Linked DNA regions of Homo sapiens. The protein of the gene in region 3 interacts with the protein of the main gene of each other region in a pairwise test. Each region holds a gene or a part of one and is shown on either strand. Other genes may lie near its edges.

Region 1 (3,751 bases), on a different chromosome or scaffold from region 3:
TTATCAGTGCAGTCTGTTGATTTTTGATGTTGTTAACTAAACTCTAAGTTTCTTCGACATCACTCTTGGGTTTATTTTCCCTTTTTCAACATGAAGGATGGGAAGGCCCAGGGAGCTTTTAGTCAGACCTTGGCCTCCAACATTTCCAAAAAAAGTTTGTGCATTGGGACTTTGCCTTCTAGTTTGATGTTGTAGAAATGCTGCACGGCCTTGGTAGAGGTCTGCCTCAGGAGTGGCAGTGTCATCAGCATCTTGCCAGCTCGACGAGGGTCTTCCATGTGCTGGCCAGCTTCATAATCCTGCAGCGCTTCATGTAAGACATCCTGAAGCTTCTGAACGGCTTCAACATCTTCTATGTGCATGGAGTCTGTGCAATGAAGCAAAAGATATGAGTAATTATAATAATAATAGCAAACCTATGTAGACTAGAGTTATAAAATTAGTTATTAATTTAATTATTTTTGAACTTCTCTGAGCTTGAACCTATGATTTGTTCAGAGTCTTGCATTTCTACAATCTCTATTTCTTTCCAAATTTCCCTACATAATTTCTAATACTAGCTTAGAAAATGGGAATTATTAGAAAAGATCTATGATTTAAAATGTGTATTTTTCTTTCTCAGGCTGAGCAAGAGAAGGCTTTCTTTTAACAGATTACAGTCTTGACTATTTTATTCATTGTCTCATCCAGGTATATATTCATTCACTCAATAAACAACCACGGAAGGCCATCTATTGAAAGTATTATCTTAGTGCTGTGTGGGGGAAGGTTGTTTAAAATTCTGATCTTGCCTGGAAAAGCCAATATTTCCCAAACAGGGGAAAAAATTGTTGACTAAGATTCTAAGAACTCCATGTGACTACATTGAATCTAGCACTATACAGAAATCACAATAAATTATTTATCCTTTCAGGATGTTTAATGTTCTAGTATCAGTTGATTAAAGCATCCTTACAGAGTCTACTTCCCTGATGAAAAACAAATGGTGTCTTCAGATCACTGAGTTCTGAAATATTTTTCGCATTTGTAAAGGTGAACTTTGCCCTTAAATGAATAATTTGAAAATCTAATTCAATCAAGCAAAGAAAGGGTTAACAAGGTTGCCAAATTATTCTTGTGAGAAATGTGAGATGTGGGGAAAAAATAAAAGTTACAGCTCCAGCTCTAAAGCAGACACTTAATTATATACAAGTTTGAATCATTTAGCACGTTTTATTGATTCTGATGACAGTTTATCTGTTAATTACACATAATGGAGTCTTTGGGGGATTCTTCATGTTTAATAATTCTAGTTCTCTGAGAATGCTGAGCTCTAAGATATATGTAGTTAGCCTAATCTTTCATACAATTCAAACATAGATCACATGAACAAAAAGAGAGGGAATGTAATTTAAAATCAAGTGGCTAAATATATAATAAAAATGAAATATGGCAAACTAATTAAAAGATAACCAGTAGCATGTCTTAAAAATTTATTTGTATTTTGTTTAGTGTTTTTTTCACTTACATTGTCATTTTGAATCATTCCACCATATCACTGGTGAACTGACCACTATTTACATTAGGTAGTTTAATGACACCTCTTTAAAAAATTTTTGAATAATCTGGAATAAAGTTGCTTATAAGTATTTACTGCTCAAGACTCAATTTCTGCCTGGCAGAGCAAAAAGAAGGAATTTTTCCAAGTGGGAAATAGCATTGATAGTGGTTCCCTGGAGCGGGACTCAAGTCACTCCCCAACATACGCCTGGCCTTTCCCTGTGGATTGTTTCTACCCAGCTTCTCTCCAGTCTGGTTCCTCTCAGCATGGCAATCTCATCCACCTCCTATGGTGCTGTCTCTTAGAAACAAACACACATAATTTCTAAAGTTGTCTAGGGGTTGGTAATCTTAGGGACAGAAAAACATTCATAGAGATGATGGCAACATGATCTGATATTCTTTCTCTCTATTTTTGCACTTAAATGCTACCTGAAGGAAAAATGGGAGGTATGGGGAAACACTATGGTGAGTCTCTAGATACACAAAAGACTGCAATATGGACCTTGTGCATAAGGGAACAGAGATGAGTTGGATTTTCCCAACTTATCCTGGGTCTAATAATTAGCTCTCTACATGAAAACAGAGTAATAGATGGAAGGAGAAAATGGGAATTACACTCTGCAGTGACAAAACAAACGAAATAACTATTTTCCAACTAGACCAAAAACACACCAGAATAAAAATAATACATTTACCATTTATTAAGCACCTATTTCAGGTGAACATGGCCTCATTTTACCTCCCCAAGCCCTAGAAGACACGTGGCACTGGTAATATGTGTCAGACACAGGTTTAAATTCAGGATTCTTCAAATCAATAATGCTGCTAGAATGTAGAACACTAAATTTGCATTCCCTTAAAAATTGGGATGAATTGTCCTCTAAACACATCCTATTCAAACTCCTATCTTCATCAGCTGTCTTCTTTACAACATTCTTAATGAAGACATTGCCAGTTGTATGAAAAGTATGTAGAGTATTCTCCTTGATAAGAGGCAAAACTAATTATTATGAATTTCCTCTTTAAATTTTCCTAAATCTGTCTCCAAATTCTATCATTTGGTCCTGTTTCTAATTACTAGAACAATACAGGATAAATTTCCTTTTTCTACATGGCATATCTTTAAGTGCTTGAAGTCAGCTGCACAGTTACCTCGGCCCTACCCATAGTCTTGCCTTTCCCACTACTCTTGCCCAGCAGGAGATATATTATAGGATGTCATGGGAAATGAGACAAGAACAAATAGCAGAGAGATATGCTCACAAACAGCAATTAAGATTTCAAACTATTCTTTCAAGGCTGTGATTTAGCATGAGAGATTTAAAAATGATTTAATCAAATTACTATGATAATTTAACTTCCCATTTATAGAAAAGATTCTAACTCATTTTAGCTTTACCCATTCTCGGATCTGCTAATACTTTAAATGCAAACTCACTAAATTTGAACTATTTAATTAGACAATGATTCAGCTGGCAGACTGCTGAAGAAAATATTAATCTCCATTAGGGATCCTAGTTCAAGTTCTGGATCTGTGGTTTTAATCTCTGTTTTGTTCTTTTGGTTAAATTTACACGTTGACACCAGGCTCAATAGAACTGGCATTAATGTATGTAATTTATTTTGTTTTCATTGTTCATGCTGGTTTCTTTTTAACTATGCTTTAAAGGAAATATTCCTAGTATTTGTGCTAATAGGAACCAGCTAAACTTAATGGATATCATAAGTTTATGAACTAACTAGACAGGACTAGGCTACATATTAAAAACAATGGGCGAGCTCTTAAAAATCTTGGATACTGGGCCCAAGTCTAGATCTATGAAGTAAGAGACCAGAACTAGGACATCAGCATTGCTGAAAATCTAGGTAGTTCTACTGCCAAGCCAGGATTAAGAACTACTACTGAATTAGACAATAAGACAAGCAAATACTATTCTAAAAGAATAAATATTTCAAAAGATAACCAGAGTGTATATGAAACACATATTATTGCCCACATATTAAGTCTAACACCTAATAATAAAATAGAACTTTATCAAAACTTCCAATATTTTACTCTGTGAAAGAGATCCTAAAAAAATGTGTCTAGTTCAGATCATTTACTTTGGGAAGATAGCTAAATATCATCATCCTTGCAGCTGCAAATTGAATAAGACAGAGCCACTGAAAAAGAAGATTTTATTTTTATATCTTCCCTTGAATAAAATAC
Region 2 (3,751 bases), on a different chromosome or scaffold from region 3:
GCCTACCCAAGTCATAGGCCCTATAAAGGGAAGACTTTCTGCATGCCATCAATGTCTCCTGTCCTACTGAACAGCCCTGAATCTGAAAGGGGAAGGTCCCCACCACCTCTCCATGGACAAATCACAAACATTTCACATTGAAAAAAATAATAATAATCTCCTGTAATTCAACCCAGGCCTCTTATGGCATTACCATTCACATATGAGAAAGTTGAACCTTAACTAGAAAAGTATATGGTTTTGGGGTTTTGTTTTGTTTTGTTTTGTTTGTTTGGGTTGTGGAAAAATAGATGTCAGAATCAAGATACTACAACAGTAAGAATTTAGGCCTGGGTCTGGAAAGGACATTTGAACATCAATATGTAATAGCAGTCCATGTCCAAAACTCACAAGTGAGATTATCAAATTCCAGGGGAGTCTATTAATGTGGCCAAAAAATCTACCCCATAATTTTGACATAAGTTTTCCAGTCCAAAATACAACCTACAGTATCATCTTATGGGTCCGGAAATGCCATACATCAAGCAAAATTACTACCGGAGAAATAACACTGTAATCATTTGCGGAGCAGTCTGACCAGGGTTCCCTCAGTTACGCCAACCGCCCCCAATCATCCTACCCACCTAAGTACTACCAGGTCAGGGGGATGCCCTGCTGCACGATCGGGCGGTCACTCCTCCTTTCCACAAGGCCCAGGCCCGCACCGTTCGCCCCGGGGCTCCCATGGCCCCTGACCTCCAGTATCCGGCAACGATGGACCGCCACAGACCCGGCAGGGGGCGAAGGGCGCACACCCACCTCCCGGGAGTTCGTGGGAATAACTCCGGGCGCTCCGAGGGTACGTCCCACACCCAGAGCCGCACGGGCCCATCCCCGCCAGGTCTGGGAAGGCAGCCCGAGCCCGGGACCCCGCCTCCCCCGCATCTAGGGTCCGGGCCGAGCTCGGCCGCCGAGCTCCCATTCCCACTCCCACACCCAGCGCCTCCCCCTGGCGGCGACAGCCGCCGGGGACGCCCCTCCCCGGGCCCCGCACGCAGTCCCCAGCCCTCCCAGGGCGCTGCCTCCTCAGAGGGTGACAGCCGCCTGGCCAGGGCCGGGGCCGAGGCCGGCCCCTCCTCCAGCTCTTCCTCACCCGCCGAGGAGACGGAGGACGGGGATGGGGTTCTTACCGGGCAGCAGGACATGGCGAGGCCCTCCACGGCACAGTCTCCCCCTCCGCCACCCCACCAGGCTCCCTGCCAGGGCCGGCGCTGGGCAGCGCCTGAGCCGCTGGGACGTCTCGTCCGGCTGCTACTCCGCCGCCGCCGCCGCCTTCTCACAACCACAACAACATGGCGGCAGCGGCCACACAGAGCGCGCTCCCGACGCCGAGCCGGGCGACGAGCGAGGACGCGCGCGCACGCTCGGGCGCTGAGCCCGGTGTCCGGGAAAGGGGGCGGGTCTCCGCCGGTTGGACGGGGGCGGGGCCTGGACAGGTGGTCACGCCCCAGGAGATGGGCGGGGCTGCAGCTGGGGAGAGGCTCGCGAAAAAGCCCAGCGGAGCAAGAATGGCTAGACAGATGGGAAATGGGTGGAGGAAAAGAGATGACAAAAAAAAATCTGGAAGAAAACCAAAGGTGGTCCTACAGATTTTTAGGAGGCGTCTTTTCCAAGCTCTGTAACCCTGGGCAAGACATGGCTCACTCTACTTACCAGAAAAATAGAACAATAGTGGTATCTTCCACCTGCAATTGTGGTCAGGATAAAACCAGTTTAATATAATGCAAGTAAATATAGTGTTTTAGAAGTTGTATTCAGAATACAATTTCTTTTCTTTTCTTTTCTTTTTTTTTTTTTTTTTTTTTTTTTTGAGACAGAGTCTGGCTCTGTCGCCCAGGCTGGAGTGCAGTGGCATCTCGGCTCACTGCAACCTCTGCCTCCCGGGCTCAAGCGATCCTCACACCTCAGCCTCCTGAGTAGCTGAGACTACAGACTCACAACATCATGCCCGGCTAAATTTTGTATTTTTTGTAGAGATGAGGTTTCTGCCATTTTGTCCAGGCTGATCTCAAACTCCTGGGCTGAAGCAATCCACCCACCTCGGCCTCCCAAAGCGCTGGGATTACAGGCATGAACCACCGCATCCGGTCCAGAATACAATTTCAAACTGATTCAACTTCAGCTCCTAATCAAAAGCTCAGCGGGAAGAAGTGAGTTTTCAAACAAAGTAAAAAACAACTCCCCCAAAAAATTGTAACCTACCCACACTAGCCTGCAGAATTCCACAAACCAGGATTGCATTACCGTAGGCCCTAACAGATTCACCTCCTCTGAGTTGCCTTTTAACATTCTACCCTTGACTTTTCTGGAAACTGGGAGAACTAGTCAAATGAAATCTATTCCTGCGTCTGTTGTAAAGTTTTTCCACAGCACTTTCTGAAATTTATTTTCAATGTTTACTGTCATTTTACTCCACTAAAATGTAAAAGCTACTTGAAGATAAGGATCTTGTCTTGTTCGTCACTGTTTCCCCAGCACCTAGAACTGTGCAGGTTAAGTAGTAGGCAGTCGAATTTCTTGATTAACTAACAGCTGGCTGGGCGCGGGGGCTCACGCCTGTAATCCCAGCACTTTGGGAGGCCAAGGTGAGTGGATCACCTGAACTCAGGTGTTCGATACCAGCCTGGCCAACTTGGTGAAACCCCGGATCTACTAAAAATACAAAAGTTAGCTGGGCATGGTGGCGGGCGCCTGTAATCCCAGCTACTTGGGAGGCTGAGGCAGGAGAATAACTTGAACCCGGGAGGCGGAGGTTGCAGTGAGCTGAGACTGCGCCACCGCACTCCAGCCTGGGCGACAGAGCAAGACTCCGTCTCAAAAAAACGAAACTAAACTAACAGCTAACATTTATTCATACAACTCATCTAATTGAATCTTCACAACTTTAATAGGTAGATGCCATTATCTCCATATTACAGATGAAGAAAGTGAAGCACAGAATAAATTGCGTGTATTAAAACAAAATTCAAACCCAGCAGACAAAAAAAAAAAAAAAATACTGTGCTGTCTTACCCACCAGGCTGTACTGCCCAGTGCATGGACACAGTAGCCTGAAATAAAATCTCAAGTAAGAAATTACTTTAGGCCGGGCGCAGTGGCTCATGCCTGAAATCCCAGCACTTTAGGAGGCCGAGGCAGGTGGATTGCTTGAGCTCAGGAGTTCGAGACCAGCCTAGGCAACATGGCGAAATCCCATCTCTACAAAAAATACCAAAAAACTGGCCAGGCGTGGTGGTGCACGCCTGTAGTCCCAGCTATTTGAGAGGCTGAGGTGGGAGAATGGCTTGAGCCTGGGAGGCAGAGGTTGCAGTGAGCCCTGATTGTGCCACTGCACTCCAATCTGGGTGTCAGAGAGAGAAAAAAGAAAGAACGAAATAAATTACTTTAGAGTTAAAAGCTTGGAAAGCCCTTGCTTTACTACCAGAAAAACCGGTGTGCTTCCTGCTTTTTGATAACTGTTACGCATCTGATTGTGTCTCTCTTTTCACTCTGGCTTCCAGAAAGCCCAGGGCTAAATGTGAAGCTCAGCAATGACCTCTTCTTGGCCCTTGAGGGTCCACTCCTGCCTCAACTTTGCACCTGTATTTATATGTGGCTGCCCTGATTTTCCCTTTCTGTTCTATGACTGACTATAGGCTTAATGGAATGGGAGAAGAAACAGTAAATACTAAAATTGATGAATGATTTAAAGTTTTTTTATTTTATTTTATTT
Region 3 (3,751 bases):
CAGGATGCAGGTGAATGAGCCTACCATGGAATCTCAACTGATTCAGTTCTGAAATCTCCTAAACTTTTGTTGCGTTGGTTATAGAGTGCCGGCAGTGCACCTTAAGCAGTGCCTGCCTGAACTCCTGTTGCTTGTATAGTCCTAGTCATTTTGTGTTTTACTTTTCACCTTTGGTCCAGTAACGTCCATTTCAGCTTCTGATGTCACTTTCCCTTCAGCCTTTGGTTCTTTTACTATTTCAGGGAATATTTCATCTTGTTTTGGTGATAGTTAGAAGCAGTTGAAATTAACCTCACGATGTGTTGAGGATTCAGTTGCTAGTAATGGTAACCAACACATCGGCTCAAGCAAAACAGTATGGATTACAAGGCTGCAAGTGTTTCTCCAGGAATCCTAATCTCTGCTGGTTTTTTTTTTCCCCCTCTTTGCTTTGTTTTTGTCTCCCTACAGATTGGTTTTCTATTTCTTGGGCCAGTGGTAGAAAAAATGTGGTTCCTTCCCAGTTCCTCTGTAAAAGAGACCATTCCTTCTCGTTCAGTTCTGAACTCATGTTTCCAAGAGAAAGAAACTCTAGTTCTTTTAGGGGGTTGAGGGAAAGGATGGACAGAATAATTAGGCTCAAACATGGCCACTAGAGGATGTGTCACACTTGGGAGAAGTCAGTTTGTGAGAAGGGAGGGTGGATCATTTTAGTTATTGGCAGAAAATGGAACCCTCTTCAGGTAGTTCAGGAGACTTTTATGATGGGACTCTAGAGCAGTATGGGGGGGGTTTCAGGGAACCAATAAGAGATGTTGAGGAGCCCCAAGACAACTACTGGGAGTGGCTACTGCCCCTATTCCAAAGGGGCCAGGGGAGGAAACAGTATTACCACATTTCAGTGATAGCTGGAACTGTGGAGGAAGGGCTGCCCAACATAAGTCATAGTCTTCGATAGATGCAGGCACTATCAGAAATGTGGCCACTAGATTGGGGGTGAGGGGCACCCTCTGATCTGGTATCTTCCACTGGACAAACCCAACCAGAAGCCAGCAAAGGGAGTCTAGGTGATACAATTTGAGTCAACCTGGTGAACAGATCCCCTCTCCCAGGGGAGAACAGAGAATCAAAAAGGTGGATTAAATCGGTATTTTGATAAATAATTTGATTGGTTTCTGTTAGGTTCTCTTTCAGTCTTTGAAGGCTATATCCCATTCTTATTAGGTACATATTATAATTTTTATTTCATTGAATATTTACAACAGTTCTGAAGGTAAATGTTATCTCTATAGATGAGGAACTGAGCTCGGGCAGGTTGAGTCGCTTGTCAAGGTGACACAGTAATTGAGTGGTGGCACTGGGATTTAAATCCAGACCTGTCTGATTGCAAAGCCCATACTTGACTCTGAGGCCACCTTCCTGCTGCAGTGAAAGTCATTTCTTCCATTTCCTCAGTAGGGATCCAGAGATCAAGGCAGGAGAGAATCTTTGCTTCCTCTACCTCCTTTTCTTTCCCCCTTTCTCTAAAAGCTTGTGGGGAAACTGGAAGGGAAAGAGAAAGTTCTAATTGACACCTCCCACTCCCCAGTTTTTCTAGAGCTTAAATAGTATATGGCATATACTGCTGTATTGTTTTGGTTGCATTTTTCCCACATTGAGTATAAGTTCCTTTAGAACCCTATATTGCATTTCTTTGTATAGCTTTTGTCTTACTAGTATCATAAACGATTTACTCTGCCCATACCATGCAGAACTTGGAGCAGACTTCAGAATTTTTAGAATCTAGGATTTATCCTCTTTTCTGGCTTACTGGGCTAGATGTGTGTTTTCCTCATCCATGAGAAGCCATTGCTAACCTCCCTCTTAGCCCAGGGATTCTGAAGCCTTGAAGTGCATTTTACTCACCTACAAAATACAGATTCTGAGGCTTTACCCCAACATTCTGAATCAGACTCTCTGGGGCTGGGGCCTGAGAATGGACATTATCATAAAGTGTTGGGAAATTTGGGGGCAGCCACCAGACATTGGCCCATGGGTAAGCCACTGACCAGAGATAAAGAAATCTCTGCTCTCTCCTGCTGAAGTCATATGGTTTCCTGCCTCTTTTTGAATGAGGCTTTGGAGTCAGACTGAGCAGGCACCTTCACCATTTACAATAAGTGGTTTTACTTGCATAACTGAACCTGCTTCCCTTGTGTAAAATGGGGACTTATGCACCTGGAAGTAGAATGGGGTTATGAGGAATGATGAGATAAGAGATGTCAAGCACTTGGGCTGTGGTTAACACAGAAAAAATGCTGGCTCCCTTTCAAGTTTGTTTTTCCATCAGAAGTGTGACTTTGTCTTAAACCATCCACACTAGATCCCCAGCCTTCATAGTGACCTCATTAAAGATTCAGCCTGTGGCTCCTGAGAATTAAACCTCTTTTGATTTGAAGGAATCGGGATTTTTCAATTATCTCAAGAAAAGGGATAGGCCAGGTGCAGTGGCTCACACCTGTAATCCCAGCCCTTTGGGAGGCTGAGGTGGGAGGATCACCAGAGGCCAGGAGTTGGCATCCAGTCTGGGCAACATAGCAACACCCTATCTCTAAAAAAAATTAGGTGTGTGGTGGTGTGTGCCTGTAGGCCTAGCTGCTTGGGAGGCTGAGGCCAGAGGATCGCTTGAGCCCAGGAGTTGGAGATTTCACTCCAGCCTGGGTGACAGAGAGATACTCTGTCTCTTAAAAGAAAGAAAAAGAAAAAAGAGAAGGGGGATCTGTGGCAAGAGCTGGAAAGTCCCCAGACAGCTCTGAGGTACCGCCTCTCATGGGCTCCGTGGATTATCTCATGGCCTGTGTGGCTGTCTGTCTTTATCTCTAGTGACATCTCTGCTTTTCTCTGCCAAGATTTATCCCTTCTCTGCAGCCACTTGCTGTCCAGCTTCCCTTCTTTGTAGAATCTGCCTCTGCCCAATACCTTTACTTTCGTGTGGCCTCTCTGGGCTCCTCCATATCATGACCTGTCAGCTCCTCTTTAACTCCTTTCTTCTCTCAAGTGTTTCTCAGATCAGAGACCAGATTGCAATGAGAGAATCAGTTTGGTCTGGTAGTATTTCACGCCAAAAAGAGTTGGTCACCCTTTGGATTATATGCCTTTGGTTCAGGCACCTACCCCTGGTCCTGGCTGTTGGGGATGGATGGTGACTGTTATGTGGCCTTTACAGGGCTTTAGGCACAATAAAGCTTTCCCAGGTTCAGCCTACTGAGTGCTATGGCTATGACCTGGACATTAAACTGGCCCTCATAGGTTCAGACCTGGCCATGGCAATTGACGAACCCTACCACAGGGCTCTTGGAACCCTGTGAAAGCCATTTTATTGTATGTTCTTGGCTGTTGAAGGGAGTTGTAGCCCAGCTGATGGCTTCCATTTCTTTTCTGTGGATCTTGCTTTCATCATAAGCATTGTTTAGGGGTATAGCATGGAAGAGGGAGATCAGGGCCTCAGCCTGGTTTTCAACTATGAGATTGAGCAGTCAGTATTCGGTTGCTCAGTCTGGCCATGACAGAATTGGAGCCAGCCCTCAGGACTCTTGATTTTTAGCTCTCTGCCCTTTCTGTTTACAGACCCATGGCACAGAAAGCCTTATGCCCAGACACTGCAGGATGCAGAGTTATGGAGCCATATCCTTTCAGAGGAATGCCTGGCTACTCAACAGGGTTGGAAAGTCAAACAAGGATCAACACCTACTTTTGCCTGCTGTGTGATGGGCCCGAGCCTGCAAAGCTGGAC

Evidence for each region.
Region 1: the proteins of EXOSC7 (region 3) and ESRRG interact in binary tests that used the Homo sapiens proteins (3 or more experiments, as listed by UniProt).
Region 2: the proteins of EXOSC7 (region 3) and MTMR3 interact in a two-hybrid assay, tested with the Homo sapiens proteins (one study listed by IntAct).

Annotation. Positions count from the first base shown.
Region 1 is NC_000001.11:216,506,817-216,510,567, forward strand, and holds part of ESRRG (estrogen-related receptor gamma), read right to left. Parts: intron 368-3,751; coding exon 123-367; 3' UTR 1-122. UniProt on the Homo sapiens protein: Orphan receptor that acts as a transcription activator in the absence of bound ligand. Binds specifically to an estrogen response element and activates reporter genes controlled by estrogen response elements.
Region 2 is NC_000022.11:29,880,778-29,884,528, reverse strand, and holds the start of MTMR3 (phosphatidylinositol-3,5-bisphosphate 3-phosphatase MTMR3), read right to left. Parts: upstream 1,356-3,751; 5' UTR 1,170-1,355; intron 1-1,169. UniProt on the Homo sapiens protein: Lipid phosphatase that specifically dephosphorylates the D-3 position of phosphatidylinositol 3-phosphate and phosphatidylinositol 3,5-bisphosphate, generating phosphatidylinositol and phosphatidylinositol 5-phosphate.
Region 3 is NC_000003.12:44,979,182-44,982,932, forward strand, and holds part of EXOSC7 (exosome complex component RRP42), read left to right. Parts: intron 1-3,751. UniProt on the Homo sapiens protein: Non-catalytic component of the RNA exosome complex which has 3'->5' exoribonuclease activity and participates in a multitude of cellular RNA processing and degradation events.